Linked DNA regions of Homo sapiens: region 1 is linked to region 2. Evidence: fine-mapped QTL for protein levels in blood plasma. Region 2 holds a variant in brackets. A gene starts in the other region. All regions are shown on their reverse strands.

Region 1 (10,425 bases), not on the chromosome of region 2:
TTCCATGATTTTGCTGTGGGCCTCTGTGGTATTTATGTTAGCCACTCTTGGTTCAAACCCTACTACTGCCTTTAATCCCTGAAATAAAAACCTACAACCTAATCTGATTAGTACTATGTCCAAACCCTCTGAGCAATAAGCACAAAGAGGAATTTAGGCAGAAAACAAACCATTTTCATGGTTCTATGTTGGTACTGCTTTCATGAACTAGTTCATTTTTTTAAAAGTGTTATTTTCAAAAATGATTGTCATCTTTCTTTACACTTTTGATTATTAAGCTATTTTCTGTAAATGATCAGTTCCCTTTCAAGCAAAATGTCATTACTATGTAAAGCCTGGTGGTTAAAACACACTTTAGCTTAATGAAGACAGACCTGAAAGCTAATGTTTGGACCTCAACTCATCACTGCCACAAAAGTTAGTAACTTTGTAAAAATGTTGATGTGGGCCATGCGCGGTGGCTCACGCCTGTAATCCCAGCACTTTGGGAGGCTGAGACAGGCAGATTACAAGGTCAGGAGATTGAGACCATCCTGGCTAACACGGTGAAACCCCATCTCTACCAAAAATAGAAAAAATTAGCTGGGCGTGGTGGCACGCGCCTGTAGTCCCAGCTACTCTGGAGGCTGAGGTAGGAGAATTGCTTGAACCCGGGAGGTGGAGCTTGCGGTGAGCTGAGATTGCACCACTGCACTCCAGCCTGGGCGACAGAGCAAGACTCATCTCAAAAAAAAAAAAAAAAGTTGGTTTGATAGTTTGACACATCCTCCATTCCCATCTAAAGATGGAATAAATCAGTTACGGGGTTTTAAAAGGGGATTTTAAATGCCACACACAGCCTTCAAGCAGATTCAACCATCCACACGTCAACTGCCTCTTACCCAGGCATTGCTTACCCATTGCACTGAGATAGTGGTTGAAGGCCTGGCAAGGAGGACTTGGGGTTTGTGTTGATTTGTCACAACTCATGGGTGCTGGGCTCCTGTCTGTGTCAAAAGAGAAATACCCACTGGAGGATCGAGACAGCAGGGAGGATCTTCTCATAAAGATGAAAAGCGGGGATCTGGTAGCAAAAGGGCCAGGGCTGGCAGGTGGGGCCAGCGGGCCCTGAGGGCTGCCGTGGGGGCAGCTGTCCCCTTCACCTCCGTGATTGCCTTCAGGATTACCTTGTGGCTCTGTCTGTAGGGAGGTAGGGGCCCCAGGTCTGAGCTGGGGAGGCCTCTCCGCAGGCTGCAATTGTCTACCTTCTCGGTCACACTCAGAACTTACATCAGAAGGTTGCTTTGCCATTTGGTCTTTTTTTCTGCAAGTAAAATAAAAACTAAGATTATTTTAAGCAAAAAAAAAAATCGATGAATAAACAAATTAGCTCTCACCTAGCGATTAAAAATTCTTAGGGTTAATCCCAAATACTTTGTTCTATACTTTTCTGACAATCTCCCAAATAAAAAAATTGCACCTAAAATAATAAAGGTGTAATTTTTTTTTGGTAGAGGGTACCCCCAAACAAAATACAGTAACAATGTCAACAGCTTGCGGAACTGGTGCACACACACATGCGTTTCCAGAGAAGCAGCTAATCTGAAGTCTATTCGTGTGTGCTCTTTGCCCAGGACAGACTTCTTCGAGTAAGTCAGAAACTCCCAGCGGCTCTGACTTCCCGGGGTTAGGTAGGACGCCGGAGCACAGGAGCGGGCGCAGATGCAGCGATTGCAGGCGGCTGGCCGCGTTCCCTGCTCCGGCCCCATTGTTTGCCGAAAATGCTGAGGGCAGCAAGTCTGGGGAAGGTCTGGCAGCGGCCGTCAGTCGTAGTAAGTGCGTCACAATAGAGTTTGTAACTCCAGCGCGGCTCGGCCCGGCTCTGGCGCTCTCTCCGCCCGTGCTCCCTCCCTCCCGCTCCCGTACCGCACGCCGCACCGAATCAGACAGAACTTCTCTGAGGTGCACACCGTGAGGTGCACATCTCTAAATGGGGAGGGGGCGGCGGAGGGCGACGAAGCGAACGCCTGCAAGGTCTACAACTAGGTCCGCAGGCTAGGCGACACCGGTGCGCGCCGCGCCGCCTTCATCCCACAGACCCTCCCCTCAGAAGGCAATCACACCGAAACTCACGTCCGCGCCTTCCCTTCAGAGCGCAGCGTCCGGGCCAGGGACCAAGCCCCGCGGCGTCCGGCCCGCGCCCTTCGCCGACCGGGCGCCCCCTGACCGTCACCACGAAAGCAGCGCAGGAGACAAAGCCCGGGACTCGGGTTCAGAGTCCCCGGCGCAGCGCAAAGCCCGCGCCTTCCCGCCAGCCCGCCGCCGCGCTCCGCCGGGCAGCCGAGGGCTCCGCACGCCGCGCCTCTGGCCCGCGCTGCCCCGGCCGCAGCCGCCGGGAACATCCTCCGCCTCCTCCCGCTCCTCCCCTCGCGCTCTGCGCCCGCCGCCGCCGGCACCGCCGACCTCCCCGCGCCGCTGGCGCCGGGTGCCCGCGTTCCCAATTGGTCCGCGCGCGGTCGCTCCGCGCCGCAGCCAATCGGCAGCCGCGGTGGGGGCGGCGCCTACGGGTCAGGCCGCCAAAGGCGAGGCGATTGTTGACAAACTCGCCTCCGAGCGCTGCTCTGGCCGTGGTCGTGGCGGCTGCCGCTTCGTCGGAGGATTTGAGGGCCGGCTGGCCCGGCCACCCTGCCCATCCCTGTGCTCCTTCCGGACACAAGCCTTAGCAGCTCCCGCCGTCCTGGACAGCCAGTCACCTGGAGACAAAGCAGGACTTGCGCCGCGCCCGGACCCGCAGGGCCATCCCCAGGCCCAGTCCTCGCCACTTGTCCTTGTTTTGGCCCGTCGGGGGCAGACCCTAACGGCCGTCACCGCCCTGGCTGTGGCAACTATTCTCCTCCAACAACTTCCTCTCTCTCCTGGTGCGCCGCAGACACGAGTCAAAGCCGAAGAGCCACCCCTGGCCGCGGACGCGCACGTCCGCGACCATCGAGTAAATTCACACCCTCCGCCCTGGCGTCCGTCGGGCCCTCCACCAGCAGCGCCAACCCTGGGGCAACAGGTCCCAGAGGGCACGGCGCCGCCAGCCTGCACCGCGAACCGGGTCGGGTGTGCTCGGGCATGCGTGAGCCGCTAAGATAGCCCGGCCCAGGGACCGAGCAGGTTCTGCCGGCCGCGACTAGTCCCCTGCGCGGTCCAGGTGGTCAGGGGAGGACCTAGATTTCTCGCTGCCAGGGAATCGTGCGGATGGCACAGGCCGCAGGACTCCTGCAGAGCAAGCAGGGGCCCCAGGTACGCTTGAGAAAGCGAACGCAGCAGTGGCCCCGAAACCTTGGCCTGAATGAGTAAAAGGAAAAGCCGTGTCTCGTCAGTTAAATCACCACCGCAGTTCCGCAAATCCTCCGCAACAGGCCCACGCGCCCCAAAAAACCAAGACACGAAACACCCTCACACTGCGCGGCCGCTACTCTGAGGGCGCCGGAGCCGGCGGCGAGACTTTCCAGCTGGGCGCACAGCCCGATACTACGAGCAGGTCCTCAGCTCCCGGGCCGGCGCCGAAAGGCACGCGCTGCCTCTCCTCCTGCCCGGACCTACGACCCTTCACCAGGCCCGCGCGCAGCATCCCGTCCCAAGCCGCACTTCGGCCAAGAGCCTGCAGGTTCCGCGTGAACGACTTTTCTTTAAAGAGAACCTGCCCGAGAGGGAACCCGATCCACACGGATCCCCACCTCCCGCCGGCGACAAGCGGCGCCGATGCAAGCGTCTCCGCTCGCACGTGCACGGGAAGCGGGCAGTAGGTGGTGCCGTTCGGGCTCCAGCGCTAGTCTTCCTTCGGTGCCAGGCCCGCGCCCCGGGATTTGGAGGTATTTACCTTGCGTTTCTCAGTCCGAGAGTCAGAGTCAGACATTTGGGGGAACAAGGGCCAAGAAAGGGCGCCGAGGCGGTGGCGGCGGGAACGCAGCGAACCGAATACCGCGATGATGCGATCGCAGTGTGGCAGGGTTCGCAGGGTGGCTGCAAGAATCAAGTGGTGGTAGTGGCGGCGGCGGCGGCGGCGGCGGCGGCGGCGGCGGCGGCGGCAGCGGCAGCGGCGCTGGACGCAGAGCTCCAACAAACTGCAGACCAGGCGGCTGCGCGGAGCGAAGTGAAACCTGCGCGGCCCTGCAGCCCAGCTCTGGCTGGCGGCCCCGCTCCTACGCCCAATCACTGCGGACCCCGCCCCCGCTAGGTCCCGCCCCGGCGCGCGGGCTGGCAAGCTCCGCCCCCCTCGGCGCCGCGGCCGCCGGCGCGTGCAGGCTCGGACAGGTAAAGGCGGGGGTTGCCCCGCTGGGTTGCCTCCCGCGCGCGCCGCCGTCCCTGGCGTGTTTACCGGAGTAACTCTGCCTGCTGGCGGCCATGTGCGCGCCCATCCCCCACCCCGAAGTGTACCCTAGCCTCCCGCTCACCTACCCCAACCCGGCGGCGGCCGCGGCGTGCGCGGCACAGAGGGGGCGCTCCGGTCACAGCCTCCGCTGGCCCGGCCGGCGGTGTGAAGCCTCGGGAGGCGCCCTGCGCTCTCACTGTGCCCTGAGTTTCTAAGCCGCTCTGGGGCAGGCGCGGGGACTGGGTTGGTCCTCGCGAAGGCGCGGGGCGAGGTCTTTGAGCTCTCCTCCCTCTGAGGGTCCCTGGCGCCGGGCGGGACGCGGATCAGCAGGCTGCGCATCTTCCTCGCCCGGGCCTCTCGCGGGACTCAGGCACCCTCCTCCTGCCACCCCGCAGGGGCTCTCCAGCTTTTCTTCCGCGCCCAGTCGCCCTAAGAGACAGAGGCCGTGGGGGCAGGACGCGCCCAGAAAACGGCCAGGCGCGGTCCCAGTGGGCGTCTTCGCCGCCTCCCGGGTGAGGGCGGGAGGCATGTGCAAAGCAGGTAAAATAGGGAAATGAAAAAAGCACTCAGAAAAAAAAATCCTTTTAGGAAAAAAAAAAACGAGGTGAATGGCGGCCTCCAAGTGAGAGAGAACGTTGCGCACTGCATTTGGCTAGGACCCCCAAGATTTGCTGGGCTCGCAGATAACCTCGTAGGAGCTCCCTCGACTGGCTGAGGCCAGTGAAGGCAGAACAGCTGAGTTCGGGCCGCGGTGCGGGAGCGCAAAATACCCCGTCCCTCCTCCCCTCCCGCCTCCCCACCCATCCCTTTCCTCCCTGGAGTCCGCAGCACCTCACTCTACCTCCCAGGAGACCAAACTCCATGCCGCCTCTCCAGTCCTCTGAGTCTGCACCCGGGTCTGCTCTCCCAACGCGTGGCTGGCGCCCCAACCCCGGCCCTCCTGTCTGCTCCTCCCGCGCCTCAGTTCCCCAGCCCCAGCTTCTAGACAACTGCAGCGGGGGTGTGGGAGGTGGATCGGGAAATGGAACATCCCGCAGGTGAGGTCAGGCTAGATGGATTAAGGAAACTCTGTAAAGGGACCACCCTACACACCACCGCAGCCGGCAGGGAGAAGGAAGGGGCCTTGCCGTAGAGGAGCAAGTGAGGAGGCGTTGTCCCGCCGTCCGGCCGCCTGGAGCAGTTTTTAAATTCATAAGCGCTTCTGTAACGTCAGTGGGACACAGCGCAGCCCCATGCCAAAGTCTCAGCGCATTTTCGGGTGAATTTTGAGCGAGGTGAAGGAGGCCTTGGGTTCCCGGAGTCGCTGGAGGACGCGCGTCGGGCCCCGCCCAGTTATTTCGCTGCAAGAGGGAAAAGGCACGAGCGTGGACACGGCTAAGTAGACTCGGAGGCCGGAGATCGGTCCTAACCGGGCCTCGAAGTTCCTACCGCGGACGAACTTTGCTCTTCGCGGCCGTCCCGCGTCGCACCCGGGGAAAAGCAACACAACTTGCTGCGCGGGCTGAGAGCCCGAAGCCCGCCGCACGCCGCAATGCTCCGCGCTCCCCGCGGGGTCGGGCGACTCAGACAGGGACCGGAAAAGAACCACGCAGAAGAAAGCCCTATTTCTTGTCGTCTGTTCCTGTGCAGCCTTGCAGCCTCGCCGCCCCCGCGTCGCTCGCTCTCGCGACCCTGTGAACACTTTGAAAAACAAGAGTCGGGGGAAGCAACGGGCTAAGCGCTGCTATTTGGGGCACTAAAAGGAAGCCGGCCAGAGGTGGCGGGTTCATGCGTCCCCCGAGACCCAGGCCGCGTCGGGGGCCAAGAGCCCTTACAGCCTTCTCCCGCGCCGTCGGGAGGTCCTCCCGGAACTGGGCCGGAGCGCAGAGAACGCAGTGTGAGAAGGGCCCATGGGTTTTAGGTCACCTCCTTCGCGCTGGACGCGGGCAGAGCGGTGTCCCTTTCTGTCTCTGCCAAGAGACGTGGAGGGAGGGAGAAGGGAGGATGGCTTGTGCTGAAAGAAACAAGAATGAAGTCGGGCAGCCGGGATCTGAGAAATGGGAAATCCATGGCCCTTGTTCGGGACCACAGGCTTTGCCGACGTGGTCTCTCCTAGTTCCGAAATTGCCCAGGCCCGCCTCCCCACCCTCTGCAAGCAGCGGGAACGACTTCCACATCGCTTAATTTCTTTATTAAACTTTTCACCTATTCTCTTCTAAAGGACAGACTACAGCGTCAGATGGTAAAAATGTTTTCCGCGCCTTGTCTTGCCGTACGGAAACCGCCGGCCTGGGAGGACAAGCCGAGTTCTTGTTTTGCCGAGAGCAAAACTCTAGGCTCCCACTTCCTTCTCCCAGTCCGTGCGTTTCCTTGCAGAGCCCCAGAGCGTCTGATTCACTGAAATAGCATCACTTGCTGAACCAAACCTTTTTTCCCGCTCGCGGAAAGAGTGGAGCTTTTTTCTTTTGTCTAAGGGTGTTTGCTTTTTTTTTTTTCTTTCACTCGGCACCACAGTTTTTCTAAATCACTGGGAATGTGAGTCACCGCTAACAGCAGGAGACCTTTGGCGGCACCCGGCTGTGGGGCGCGCTCGCAGCGGGGAGCCCACCCTGATTGTCTAGGGGATCCGGCACTGAAGTTGGGAGAGGTTGCAGTCAGGCCAGGCTGGGTTTCAGGGAAAGGGCACAGGGATCCAGCGCACCAGGCGACCGTCTGGATCTCTTTCCTAGCAGCCAGCCGCGCACCTCGCCAGCCTCGGCGGGACCTCCGCTTTGCCACCAAAATCCCCGAGAGTGGCGGCCCAGCGGGTGCCAGCCCCCGGCCTCGGCCACAGCTCTGGGCGTCGGTGGAGCGAGCGTCGTGGCAGCTGCTGGCGGGCCACCACACTTCCCGCCACACCCGTTAGAGCTTGGCTCCCAGCTTGGGCCGCCGGGAGCGCGCCTCTTCCCGTGGCCGCGGCTGCAGCGGTGCAGGGTAGAAAGCCCACGCGGCCCGCGGGTTGGAGATTCCGGCGATTGGTGCGTGGAGGTAGGTGTGTGGAATGTTAAAGGTCGAGATCACCCTCCGGGCATCATCCTTCACCGAGTCGCACAAATCCAGCAACTGCAAAACACAACACAATGGGACAGGTCAGATGTTGGCACACTTACAGCCATCTAGTGACAGCAGCTTTCAGCCCACCAAGCACCCGCACACACAGCGGCCCCGGAAACTAGTTTCCCTTTGGATTCTCCTGTGGAAACTGTTGGCCATGAATAACCCTCGGAAGCCTTTTTTGTTTTAGACATTCCCAACTCTGACACCTAGCCCAGTGGAAACCCCGGCTTTTCCCGTAAGGGGGTGGGCGTGGACGTGGGGTCGGTCGGCTTTGCCCCCAAATTAGCCGGGAACTCGAGACCAAGGTCTGAGAATTTATTAAAGCTCCCTCCTTGGTCCTTCCTCCCTGGTCCTTCCCTCCGCTCCTCTCTCTTTGCCTCCCCTGTCGTCCCCTCCTCTCCACCTCTGGAGTGCCTGGGGTGCCACCCTCTGGCGCGCAGAGGGAACTGAACAGGAAGAGCCTCCGAACAGGTGAACCACTAGAGACCTGCTCCAGTCTCCCCAGACTAGCGCCTTCGGTCCTGACCTGGCTGGCAGTAGGCCATGATTCTTGAAATTCAGTACAGTGAGACGGCGGACCAATGCTAGGCATCTTCCGCCTGGCCGCTGCGGAAAATCCATCTGCTGTTAACGCCAATGCCAAGGAACGCCGCGGATGCCCTTGGTTCTGGCAGCCACTGGAAGGCAGGGATAAGACATTCCCGGCGGATAGGAGAGGGAGATGCAAGTCAGTGTTTTGGAAGCTGCACTGGTGTATTTTTATTTCATTTTCCATGGCTTAGGTGCCAATGTATTTTTTTTTTTATTTTCAGGAAAAAAAGCTACCAAACTAATAAGATTGTTTTTCTAAAACTACACAAGGGCAGAGGGACGGCTTTCTTTTCTTCTGATCTACACATTGTACTCCATTTTTCAAGTTTTCGGCCAGTGGTAAATTTGTTTCACTCCCCAAATCACAGTAAATCCCCAGGTTTTCATGGTTTATTTTTACAGGTTTAACAACATCACTTACACCAGCCCCACCTTTGCCCTCACATGGTGGTCATGTCTGAGCCGCACTGATGTTGTTAAGATCACAGTTTCCCTTGCAGCAGTCCAAAACGCCATTTCAGGTTTTCAGAGCATTTCAGGTTTTCAGTGAGGTCCCAAGGAGGAAGGTGGAGGAAATAGGGGATGGGGAATATAGAGGGTAGGGATATGGTGGGGGAAGAGCATGAATTGTAATAGTCCAACAATACATCTTCCCTGAAAATGTGCTCTATTACACCAGTAATTTCTAATGAAAAACTTCATTCTTCACACACTGTGGTTAAGCATCATCAAATCAGTACTGAAAAGACCTTTGATCGTATTTGCAAGATGCACTAAAATGAACTTTCACTGACCAAGATTTCAAAGTTTGTAATTAATACTCTTGAAAAATCCCTGACTAATCTGTCAACTCTCAACGTCTTTAACCACACAGTTCAAAACCATGAGGTGGCGTACACAGCCCCTAAACTTTCCACATATTGTCATATGATTATTCAAGATAATTTTCCCTTTGGGTTTGCATTATGAAACTCAACCAACTTTGGTAATATATTCACCGGTGGGGGAAATACAATGATTTGAATGAGTGTAAAATAGAGTATGGGTTTTATCTATCTGGTGCCAAAAACAGAACGTAGGGCCAGAGGTAGGAATTAAATGAGGCAGATTTCAATATAAAGAAAATTTTAAAAAAATAAACTTGAAAAGGAACCCAATGGCTGGTGAAAAGGAGGGTTTCTTCACTCATAAGTGTTCAGGGAGTGTGCCCTCCAATGGCACCCTAGAGAAGAAAAATGAACTGGCTGTGAAGAGGAGTTGACTGCCAAGATTCTTTCTAAATCTAAAGTTCTGGAGCAGTTTAAAATACTCCTTCTAGCCTTCTCCATTTTTCCTAGACTGCAACAGAAACCTCAGAATGATTATTGTCTCAATGGACGGATCCGGCATCATTCCTGTTAGTTATTGTTTGACTCTTAGTTATTGTTTGACTCTGATTCCAGGTACCCACCCACCTCTGTTCCTGGCTGTCAAGATGATAATAATAATTACCATCCTTTCACTCACAAATGGTATGCTGGATTCCTACCCAGTGTTAGGTACAATTCTGGACTTTAGAGGTTTAATGGTACACACTACAGGAACAGGTCTCACATCGTGAAGCTGTTGAGGCGTTTTAAAAATTTTTAAAAATATATGATCTCTTTAATACAAAATAAACTTGAGAAGATAATATAGCATTGATTATTACACAGTTACAGTATTTTTATTACCAGGGGGTATTTTTATATGGGGCTAAGCAGTGTATTATTAAAGTTTAGTTTTGTTACCAAACATGCTTCCATACTATAAGCATAAAAATTGCACATAGTGTAGGGGTCCTCTGCCCTGCCAGTTTATGACCCATTTATGCTGGACAAAGTACTTCAAGCTTACCCATATCTTTACAAAGAAAATTCACCAGCTTTTGAAAAAGACAAATGAATAGGTATACTTTAAAAATAAAAAAGTATGAACAAGTTATAGGTTCTTGCAAAAACATTTTTTAAGGTCAAACCTAAACATGGGCACTATTGCTCTACAAGCAATAAGAATGTACAGTCCACTGGAAATAGCCAGTGAGTGGAATTTGAGAATATCTGCTTTAAAGAAAGCAGAAGCACTCAGCCCTCAAGGGATGACACTGTGTTTGACTATATTAATATGTATATTTGGGAGTGAGGGAAAAATTGTAACATCAGTTTGGCTTCCCACCTCCATCTAGTTGCAGTACTCAATTTATTTTTCTGCTCTTTTTGACTCTCCCTACAGTTTCCTTATTTCAGTTGGGAGAGTAGGATGGCCAAGGATGGGCAGTGACTAAGCTTTGCAGTCCTCTGAACAAACCATATTTTCCCAGCATGGCATGGTGTTAGTCCTATAATAGATGTTCAGGGTGGGAAGTGCCCAGTACACTTGGAGGGACACCCCAGCTATTCCTA
Region 2 (10,523 bases):
TTTTGTATTTTTAGTACAGACGGGGTTTCACCATGTTGGCCAGGCTGGTCTTGAACTCCTGACCTCAGGTGATCCACCCACCTTGGCCTCCTAAAGTGCTGGGATTACAGGCGTGACCTACCTCACCTGGCCAGCCTTTATTTTCTTAGAAGATGCTCAGATGCAGTCGCATTGCCGGGCCTGGCTGTGCATTTGAAAGCAATAGAATGTGTTCTCCTAATATACCTCTGAAACTGGTCCAATTGTCCCATAGAACTGATATTTATGGCTTCTTTTGAATAAACATAGAAACTGATCCTCCCAGTCTTGAAACTTGAGGAAGTTACATTTGTCTTTGCTCAGTTTCTTTCTCAGGCATCCAACCATCAGGCTTCCTAGATAGTGTCAATAAACTGAAACTTACCAGATCACTGCATCTAGGCAATAAGACATCAGACTCCTCACCTACCATGGTTGCCTAAGTGGCTACCTGCTTCCTGTTGAACAGCTCCTCTTCCTTACCCCTCCCTAATTCCTGTTTTCCTGTATGTAGTTACATTTCTTCCCTGCTATATAATCCCCTAATTTTAGCCAGTCAGGGAGATGGATTTGAGACTGATCTCCCATCTCCTTGGCTGCAGCACCCAATTAAAGCCTTCTTAACTGGCAACACTCGTGTCAGTGATTGGCTTTCTGTGTGGCAAGCAGCAGAGCCTAGACCTAACCCTTGGTGTTTTGGTAACAAATTGATAGGGTGAAAAAAAAGGCTGGTGCATCAGTCAAGGTTTCATCAAGGAAGCAGAACCACTGTGAATCCTATGGCATAGGAGATTTATCTAAATCTAATGCCATTGTGGGAGGAGCTAGGAAAATAAGGTCCAGGGAAAGGGAGTTGGAGGATCTGAAGAAGGTTATTCATTAGCCTTCCAAAAGCATTGGTGCTCCTGGACAAGTCAGAGCTTTTAGGGAAAACTGGACAGGTACATATAGCTGCCAAGGGACTGCACAGGGGAGTTAGTGGAGAAATCTTTGGAAGACTCTTGCCCTGTTAGGTGTACTATGGCTATAGGTTAGCACGGCCAGCAGTGGAGGAAATGTTGAGTGCCAAGGAGGGGCGAGGGAGAACAGGCTGGAACCCTTCGGCATCCCTGCATCCATCTCTCACTGCAGCTTTTCTTTTTCTTTTTCTTTTTCTTTTTTTTTTTTTTTTGAGATGGAGTCTTGCTCTGTCATCCAGGCTGGAGTGCACTGGCACGACCTTGGCTCACTGCAACCTCCGCCTCCCGGGTTCAAGCGATTCTCTTGCCTCAGCCTCCCAAGTAGCTGGGATTACAGGTGCCTGTCACCATGCCTGGCTAATTTTTGTGCTTTTTAGCAGAGACGGGGTTTTGCCATGTTGGCTAGGCTGGTCTCGAACTCCTGACCTCAAGTGATCCAGCCGCCTCAGCCTCCCAAAGTGCTGGGATTACAGGCATGAGCCACCATGCCCGGCCCTATTCTTACTTTGTATGTTGTATGTACTTTGTATGAATTGCTCCACCTCCCAGCTTGAAGCAATTCTCCTGACTCAGCCTCCCGAGTAGCTGGGATTACAGGCATCCGCCACCACACACCCAGCTACTTTTTGTATTTTTTGGTAAAGTCGGGATTTTGCCATGTTGGCCAGGCTGGTTTCGAACACCTGACCTCAGATGATCCGCCTGCCTCGGCCTGCCAAAATGCTGGGATTACAGGCGTGAGCCACCGTGCCTGGCCAAGAATTTATCTCTTTTAATTCTCATAACACCCCATGAGGTAAGTACATTATTAAAGTAATATTTTGCATGGGGAAACTGGGACTTTGAGAATTTAAACTGGGAAGTTAAGCAAATTGGCAGTTTTTAGACTCAGGCTGTAACTACAGAACTCTGGTTTTTAACCACCTCACTATACTGCCTCAAATGTGATACACTGGGCAATACCTCAAAGTTTTGCAAAAGACAGAATGGTGTTCAAATGGAAATTCTTATGAAATAAAAGATGAAAGTATAACTTAAATAATTTTTTGTTGTTGTTTTTTGAGATGGAGTATCACTCTTGTTGTCCAGGCTGGAGCGCAATGGTGCGATCTTGGCTCACCGCAATCTCTGCCTCCCGGGTTCAAGCAATTCTCCTGCCTCAGCCTCCGAGTAGCTGGGATTACAGGCATGTGCCACCACACTCGGATAATTTTATATTTTTAGCAGAGACGAGGTTTCTCCATGTTAGTCAGGCTGGTCTCGAACTCCCAAGCTCAGGAGATCCACCCGCCTCAGCCTCCCAAAGTGCTGGGATTACAGGTGTGAGCCACTACACCCAGCCAACCTTAAATAATTTAACATAGCATTTTTGCAAGATGTTGAAGTGGCATTTTGGCTTTTGATCATCTATCTTAATATAGAGAGAGAGACACTGGGCTTCTGGAAGAGTGAGTTTTAAAATATAGCTGCTGGATCCTCTCAAATCTTCTCAGAGGAGCCTTGGGAGTCTGGGCTTTCCCGCGAGGTGAATGTACAGAGTATGAGCAGAAGGGGAGCATGGGCGCCAGACAGACTGGGGTGAGGCCGAAAAGCATGTGTCTTTCTGTGAGTTAACTCCTTTGGAACCAGGCTTAGAAGCAGGAAGTGGAGAGTGGAGTAAAAAGCCAATAGGGGCCTCCTGTTTGAGGAACTAGGCGTAGACAATGTGAGGAATGTGCGTTGGACTCGACGACAGGAAATGCCTGCCCTGAAGAGAAGCACGGAGCGATGTAGCTGTGTGGCCCCAGAGCCAGGGCCAGACACTTGGGGTGTGACTTTGGCTTGGTAGTTAGGTCTTTTTTTTTTTTTTTTTTTTTTTTATTTGAGGCAGAGTCTTACTCTGTTGCCCAGGCTGGAGTGCAGTGGCATGATCTCGGCTCCCTGCAATCTCCACCTCCCGGGTTCAAGCGATTCTCGTGTCTCAGCCTCCCCAGTAGCTGGGATTACAGGCTCCCACCGCCACACCAAGCTAATTTTTTTTTTAATTATTTTTTAGTAGAGACGGGGTTTCGCCATGTTGGCCAGGCTGGTCTCGCACTCCTGACCTCAAGTGATCCGCCTGCCTTGGCCTCCCAAAGTGCTGGGATTACAGACGTGAAGCCACTGCGCCCGGCTGGTATAGATATTTAAAAAATAAGAAAGTTAGTTTCTGGGTCACGGGAAACTCATGTTTATGTTACCTAACAAAGGCCTGAAGTGGAAATACTTCATGTTGTTGAGTAAGCTGAGAGGTATAGGCTTTATATATCAGCCCTTATTTTTCTGCTAAAACATGATTGTCAGGAAATACCCAGAACAGAACCCTGACTCCATTCTCTTCCCATTCTGATCCACCCTACCCAGAACCTTCAGAATCATCTATCTCAAACTCCCTCTGAGTATGGCAAAGACTGTAGAAGGAACTCTACTGCATATTTCAGCCTAGACTCCCAGCTGGGCTTCATACTACCTTTCACAGCTGATCCCTCTACCTAGTCAACTTCTTCCAGTCACATTGGTTGCATTCACTCACTGTTGCACAAAAGACTGCAGCCTGGATCAAATCTTTGTTCCGTATGCTTTCATCTTGACTTGCCAATGGGATTGCAAGATCTTTGAGGGAAAGGATTTATGTCTTTTAAAATTTCTTTCTTTTCCTCTCAGGACCTCATGCGAAGCATATGGTAAATAGTTAGTGACTGCTGCTTAACTCAGTTTATCCTGACCAATACACAGAACAGCACCAGCCACAATTAGGTATTTAATAAGGATATTTTGGATTGAGACAAGGATCCTCTCAGAGTCAGACATTGTCTTGGCATGCCTTTTTTTTTTTTTAATTTATTGGGTCTCTGTGACTGTAGTCAGTGACTTGGTGTGTCTTTTGTAATGACAACATTAATAATAAAGCCTTCAGATGACATGGTGTAATGGAGTTCAAAAGGTCTAAGTCTGAATGCCAGCCCTGCCACTTATTAACTATATGACCCTGGGCAGGGCACTGTGAACTACAGTTTCCTTGTAAAAGAATGATGTTCATGGGGGCCTTAGAGTGGTTGTGAGGATTAAGTTATATGCCAAAAGTAAATTATCTAGCATAGCAAATGGCTGTAATAGGTGTTCGATAAATGTTTTTTTTCTTTTGAGACTGAATTTCATTTTGTCACCCAGCCTGGAATGCAGTGGTGCAATCTCAGCTCACTGCAACCTCCACCTCTCAGGCTCAAGTGATTCTCCTGCCTCAGCCTCTGGAGTAGCTGGGATTACAGGTGCGTGCCACCACGCCCGGCTAATTTTGTATTTTTATTAGACATGGAGTTTCGCCATGTGGCCAGGCTGGTCTCGAACTCCTGACGCCAGGTCATCCACCCACCTCGGCCTCCCAAAGTGCTGGGATTACAGGCGTGAGCCACCATGCCCAACCCAATAAGTGTTTTTATTACAGAAAATTTAAAATCTCCGTCACTTTTTACTTTATTGATTTTCAATTTGCTTCTTTACCTGGATCAGAAAGATAATTTCAAATTGTTTGGAGGTTGAGTATTTTCTGATAGTGAGAAGTTGGTAGACATTCTATTAACAGAGATGATTTTAAAAATATTTTTGGTAATTAACTGGACCATAAGAAAACAATACTAAACAAGCCAAATTACTCTTAGCTAAGGCTTGGAAATCTGGAGAAAGAGGAAGAAGAGAAGGAGAGAGTCCTTAGATTACTGGTAGAAGCATGACCTACTAACTCTTCTTTTAGCACCCGTGGTGGTAAGGAAGTCCCGCCTAAGGACTTCTGCCTTGGCTAGGGAATGTTCCAGTGTTGGGTTATGAGCCTCCATGGCAGAGCCACAGCACTGACTCTCTGACCAGCTGGAATTTGCTGCAGAATGGGTAGGGCTGAAAGGAGACCACTGTGAATTAGAGTTAGAACATCAAGACTGATCTTTATTTCACCCAGAGGCAGAGTGATAAAATGGCATTCTTCTCTATTTAAATTCTATCCCATCTTTCTTCTTGTCCTTCCTCTCAAGGTTGCTGGCAGAGGTGGTTGGGGCTATGTGCCTGGAGTGAAGATTCTGCCCATTGGTCAAGAGACCTCCCTCTCAGATGCTGGCTCTGCCCCTGCCTTTGGGGGTC[G/A]ACCCTTGTACTCGCAGGACCTTAGGTGACTCTGTAAGTATAGTAAAACGCAGTTAATATGATGTTATCATTCAATCATTTTTAAAAAGTGGAGCAACCAGTTGACAAGGTAAGACTTTTTCCTGACATCTGTGGTTGTTTATTTAAAAGAACAGACAATATTTAAAATGAAAGACAAACTCAGAGGTTCAAATGCATCCAATAACTTGAAGCAGCAGTGACATATACATCCAAAGATGATTGTAGCTATTTAAAGCCATATCTTGTTTTTCTAGGCAAAAGTACAACATTGGTTATAAAGCATATACCTTCTTTGCACTATAGGGCAATGAAAGGCAATCCTATTATTCTGCTTCTCAAAAATCAATGGTCTTCAAAGTCATAGCAAAAAGACTATAAAGTGAGACTAGAGAGTAATTTCCTCATAAAATTTCGGAACAAACTTTGCATCACATTCCATAATATTCCCTTGTCAATTATTTAAAAAGTTTTATTAGCAAGCCTGCTTCTATATTGCTCCCTCTGCTTTTCATCCTTATCATTAAGCTCGGAGCTTCTGTAAACTAAGAATTACTCAATCTAGGCTCAGCAAAAATAAACAGAATACTTCTATATGAAAGCCTGTTGCAAAGAGTAGTTAATGAGTAAACAGAAATTTTTGACTTATGAGAAACACTCTCACTCAGAAAGGGCAGTGGGAGTATTTATTTGATATAACTAGCCCATTTTGGGAATAGAAAGTCAATTAATTTATGTCCCCCCTTTCCTCCCTTTGGCCAACCTGTCTTCTTTCTTGTTACTTTGAAATCTGGAAGTTTTTCTTATTATTTCTTTTTTTTTCTTTTTTTCTGAGACAGAATCTTGCTCTGATGCCCAGGCTGGAGCGCAGTGGCACGATCTCGGCTCACTGCAACCTCCGCCTCCCGGGTTCAAGCAATTCTCCAGCCTCAGCCTCCTTATTATTTCTATTCCATTAATAAGTTCAGCATTTAATCTCTTGACTTCCCTTATTTTCACACACATTCAAATACCAAGTGCCACAGTTTATTAAGAATGACAAGAATCTTTGTATGCAAATTCATGACATATGTTGTAAGGTACATATTTGTTATCAGAGAAGCCAATTGCAGCAGGCCATACGGCACATTAGTTTGTCTGTTTACTGTGCTAGTTTAGAAAACTTGGGAAGAAGATTCAGAAAAGAGTTAGAATTGTGGCACACAATTTTATGCAGTCCGTGGAGACTGATGGTGTCTCCACTGGGAGTCTCACCACTTCTCTTTAGACTGTTCCGAAGCTGCATGGTTTTTGGTGCATTATATCAGGATATTTTCATCTGGACAATGGAGAGAGGGATATTGATACTTTAATAAAGTATGAAAGAAATACCCATAGCCACTTAAATTAAGAAAGGCCATCAGTGAGATCGAAATAATAAGATTCTTTCATTTGTGTGGTTGGATTAATTTCACTAACTGACTTCCAGGGGCGTCCAGGACATTTTGGGGAGGTCGTGTCTGGAAAATCTGATATTGGGTTAAATGAAAGGCCATTTGGGTCTATCTGGATATCAGGGATCCAATCGTCATCACTCTGTATGGGAGCTGGTGATATAGGAGGCATCATAGTTGCAATGAGATCAGAGTCCTGAAAGTCAGAAAAGGTAACTGTTACACCTGGCTTGGCTAGGGAAGGGATGGGTGTTGGCCCTTCTGTCTTCTCTTGTGTCTGTGCAGAAGGTGTAGTACTGTCTTCAGAAGAGCTTGCCAAATGCTCTGTTTTCCAACCATTGTGCTTTCCATTCTTTTTGCCTTTATTTTTATGTTTTCCGTGGCCATGACCATGCTTATGCTTATGTCCATGGTCAAGGACATGGCCCCCTTGGTGTTCAAGATCATCATCAAGTTTGAACTTATGTCCATGACCAAGACCATGCTGTTGTTCGTGTCCATGGCCAAGGCCATGTCCTCTTTGGTGCCCATGCCCTTGGTCACGTTCATGTTTATGGCCATGGCCAAGATTATGTTTTCTTTGTTTTTCATGGCCCCAGTCATGTCTACGAGTATGCCCTTGTTCTTTTCCTGAATCCCGCTCTTCATCTTGTGCAGGTGCCATGGAAGTGTGGGGTGGACTTACAGTTGTTTCTTCTTTTATTTCCCCTATTCGTGATGATCGGAAAGGTGAAAAACCTGGAGGCCTTTTCATCAGTGAGATCTAAACAGAAAATATTAAGATGAATGTATTACTGCAAAAATCATGCTATTGATGATAGAAAAAAACACTGAGATCTGGCAATGTTATCTTAGTTTACAATGGGGGAGGTGTTTGCCAGATTTTAAATGCTATATTAACATTCCAGAAAGGATGAATAATTTTTTTTGTCTTTTGATTGATCTTAAAATTTGTGGACATTAATTATTGTTGTTAATAATACCATAAAATAGCCAGGCATGGTGGCTCACACCTGTAATCTCAGCACTTTGGGAGACCAAGGCGAGCAGATCACTTGAGGTCAGGAGTTTGAGACCAGCCTGGCCAACATGCTGAAACCCCATCTCTACTAAAAATACAAAAATTAGCTGGGCATGGTGGCACATGCCTGTAATCCCAGCTACTCAGGAGGCTGAGGCAGGAGAATTGCTTGAACCCAGGACGTGGAGGTTGCAGTGAGCTGAGATGGCGCCACTGCACTCCAGCCTAGGCGACAGTGACTCTGTCAAAAAAAACAAAAAACAAACAACAACAACAACAAAAAAAAAACAAAAAAACCCAGCCAAACAACAACAAAAAAAACTGTAAAATAAGCTGGAGTGTTTTTGCTTCATCTGGATGGTTGAACTAGCTAATCTCTAGGGTAGCTTCTGAGCCTATGTTTTTACTGAGCACAGTATTTAATTATTGATACTACTGTTATTACCACCATCACTGCTTTTATCCTAAAAGGCCCTAAGTGGCTTTATGAACTGAATATATAGGGAGCATGTATCCATGATCACTTTGTTGTGCTGAAGCACATTAGGACATATTCGCAAGCTTGAAATGCAACCTGAGGACAATGTTTGTGTTACACCATCTACATACCTACACATGACAAAAGACCAAATCAGAAAAGAGGGAAAAGAGGTAACCTGCTTCAAATATGTCGATCTGTGGATTAATTCTACCTACACTTTTGCTACCTGTGAGAATGTGTTAATTGGAAGCAGTGTCTGGTGATGCAAAGAACATGGTCATTGGAGTCCGGCCAGACCCTACTGGTAATCAGCATCGTGATGGAAAGGGTAGACTCTGAATTGACCAAGATTTGAATCCAAGTGCCATCAGCTTCACTTTTCCTTTCTGTAAAATAGAAATAATAACAGCACCTGCCTCACAGAGTTATAAGGAGGACTCGAAAATGTGGGTGAAACCTTCAGTATAGTGCCTGGGACAGAGGAAGCATTTGATAATGTCATTATTCACTCAGGACCTCAGAGTCTTTCTAATTTTTAGTGTCTCATCCTTGACAATAGGGAAAGTGTTACTACCTCCCAGAGTTCTTTTAAGACTTAAAAAAGAAAGATGACATCAACGAATGCTTTTCAAACTTGATTCATGCATATGAATCCCCTGGGGATCTGGTTAAAATTCGGTAGCTGTGAAGTGGGGTTTGCGAGTCTGAATTTTTCTTTTCTTTTTTTTTTTTTGAGACAAAGTTTCGCTCTTTGTTGCCCAGGCTGGAGTGCAGTGGCAGGATCTCGGCTCACTGCAACCTCCACCTCCTGGGTTCAAGGGATTCTCCTGCCTCAGCCCCCTGAGTAGCTGGGATTACAGGCGCCACCACACCCAGCTAATTGTTGTATTTTCAGTAGAGACAGGGTTTCACCATGTTGGCCAGGCTAGTCTCAAACTCCTGACCTCAGGTGATCTGCCTGCTTCAGCCTCCCAAAGTGCTGGGATAACAGGCGTGAGCCACCGCGCCCAGCCATGCATTTTTCACATGGTCCTTGCATGTCAGCAGAATGCAGTGGAGTGCTGTATCTGGCCTCAGGTACACCTGGCATAGCCAATGTTGCTCCCCCACAGCAGGACTGCAGTGCACTAGGAGAGAGTCTATAGAAGCTTCACTGAGACACTGACAATGTGTGAGAAGTGATCAGGAGGATTGTTACTCTTCTTTCTAGCCATTAAACAGAGATCAGCACAGAAGTGTGAGAGTTACTCCCCATTTAAAAAAGATAGCTCCCCAATTCATTTCAGTAATGGTTCATTTTCAGCCCCCAAATATGGATTTTCAGAATGAGCAGAACTGACCCCACGCTGACTGTAATTAGAATCATACCATTCCCAGTGGTTGACAGTTGACAGTAGGGTAAATTTTTTTCTCCCAGGGTACCACATAAACTTCAGCGTTGCAATCTAGGCTTTGCTATCCATGAAAACAGAAGTCGAAAGAGAGACAGTGTTATTCACGAGACATTTAAACAAATGATTCTAAAAACATCAAATAGGCTTCCAGTGAAAAAGTAGACAGGTGCATGACTACTCACGCCAAGTTTTTTGGTCTCACAGCTTTCGGTCAACTCTTCATTACTTTCCTTGGAACATGTGGTTTCCCTGGCCACGAAGTCAATAAAATATTTCTTGCCAGCCACCACCTGAAAAATTAATTAGTACAAAGTAAACGCTTAAAAATATTTGCATAATAAATCATTTATCTTTAAGAAATGTTAAGGGAGAATCTTGAAATTTTAATTGACCAACTTAGAGAGTTACATACAAAAAAGTACACGTTTGGCATTAAAGCTTGGCATGCATATTTAAAATATTTGGCTATCGGTTGGTCCCATTTCCTTTTCTAAGTGGGGGAAGAAATAAGCAAGCTATAATTTTCTTTATTTTTTTTTTTTGAGATGGAGTTTCGCTCTTGTTGCCCAGGCTGGAGTGCAGTGGCACGATCTCGGCTCACCACAACCTCCGCCTCCTGGATTCAAGCAATTCTCCTGCCTCAGCCTCCTGAGTAGCTGGGATTACAGTTGCCCACCTCCACGCCTGGCTAATTTTATATTTTTAGTAGAGATGGGGTTTCTCCATGTTGGTCAGGCTGGTCTCGAACTCCCGACCTCAGGTGATCCACCTGCCTCGGCCTCCCAAAGTGCTGGGATTACAGGCATGAGCCACCATGCCTGGCCTATAATTTTTATTTATTTATGTATTTATTTGAGTTTTATTGTCCAACAGCTGTTAAATTCACTAGTAATTCAAGGGCTCAAGTTGTAATATCTAATAATCTAACAGGAATAGGAAGAAAAACTTAAAATGTTTTTAAATATGCCTTATTGTCCTGCCAAATCTTGAATTGGTGAAATACTGAGTTAGTACTACTATAGAAATTATGTGGATTAAATTTTGTAATTA

Alleles and levels. Alleles are on the strand shown, and positions count from the first base shown. The strength of an association depends on the size of the effect and on how common the allele is.
For the plasma level of the protein whose gene starts at base 4,122 in region 1, allele G in region 2 goes with a higher level than allele A (weak association).

Evidence for each region. A credible set is the group of variants that fine-mapping cannot tell apart. PIP is the chance, under the fine-mapping model, that this variant and not a neighbour inherited with it causes the effect. Protein levels are from antibody-based Olink assays in UK Biobank. Linkage for the fine-mapping came from a reference panel and not from the study's own genotypes, which makes the PIPs less certain.
Region 1: it holds the start of BCL2L11, and the variant in region 2 is the best candidate, but not a certain one, in a credible set for the plasma level of the BCL2L11 protein (UK Biobank, PIP 0.73).

Annotation. Positions count from the first base shown.
Region 1 is chr2:111,114,611-111,125,035 of GRCh38, reverse strand. It overlaps BCL2L11 (BCL2 like 11), which reads right to left and starts at 4,122. Exons shown (of 4, transcript NM_138621.5): 1 at 3,848-4,122; 2 at 897-1,303. The coding sequence starts at 1,290. ACOXL (acyl-CoA oxidase like) reads right to left here. Exons shown (of 18, transcript NM_001142807.4): 18 at 6,488-7,420. The coding sequence ends at 7,220. It overlaps ACOXL-AS1 (ACOXL antisense RNA 1), which reads left to right and starts at 9,448. Exons shown (of 4, transcript NR_122074.1): 1 at 9,448-9,516. RefSeq lists silencers at 2,038-2,597, 3,390-3,684, 4,018-4,557 and enhancers at 3,568-3,687, 4,838-4,917.
Region 2 is chr3:186,738,339-186,748,861 of GRCh38, reverse strand. KNG1 (kininogen 1) reads right to left here. Exons shown (of 10, transcript NM_001102416.3): 8 at 9,656-9,763; 9 at 9,448-9,534; 10 at 4,452-7,340. The coding sequence ends at 6,531. Among named protein-coding and RNA genes, the nearest start is that of KNG1, 26 kb to the right of the region's middle. The variant G/A (reference allele first, on the strand shown) is at 5,127.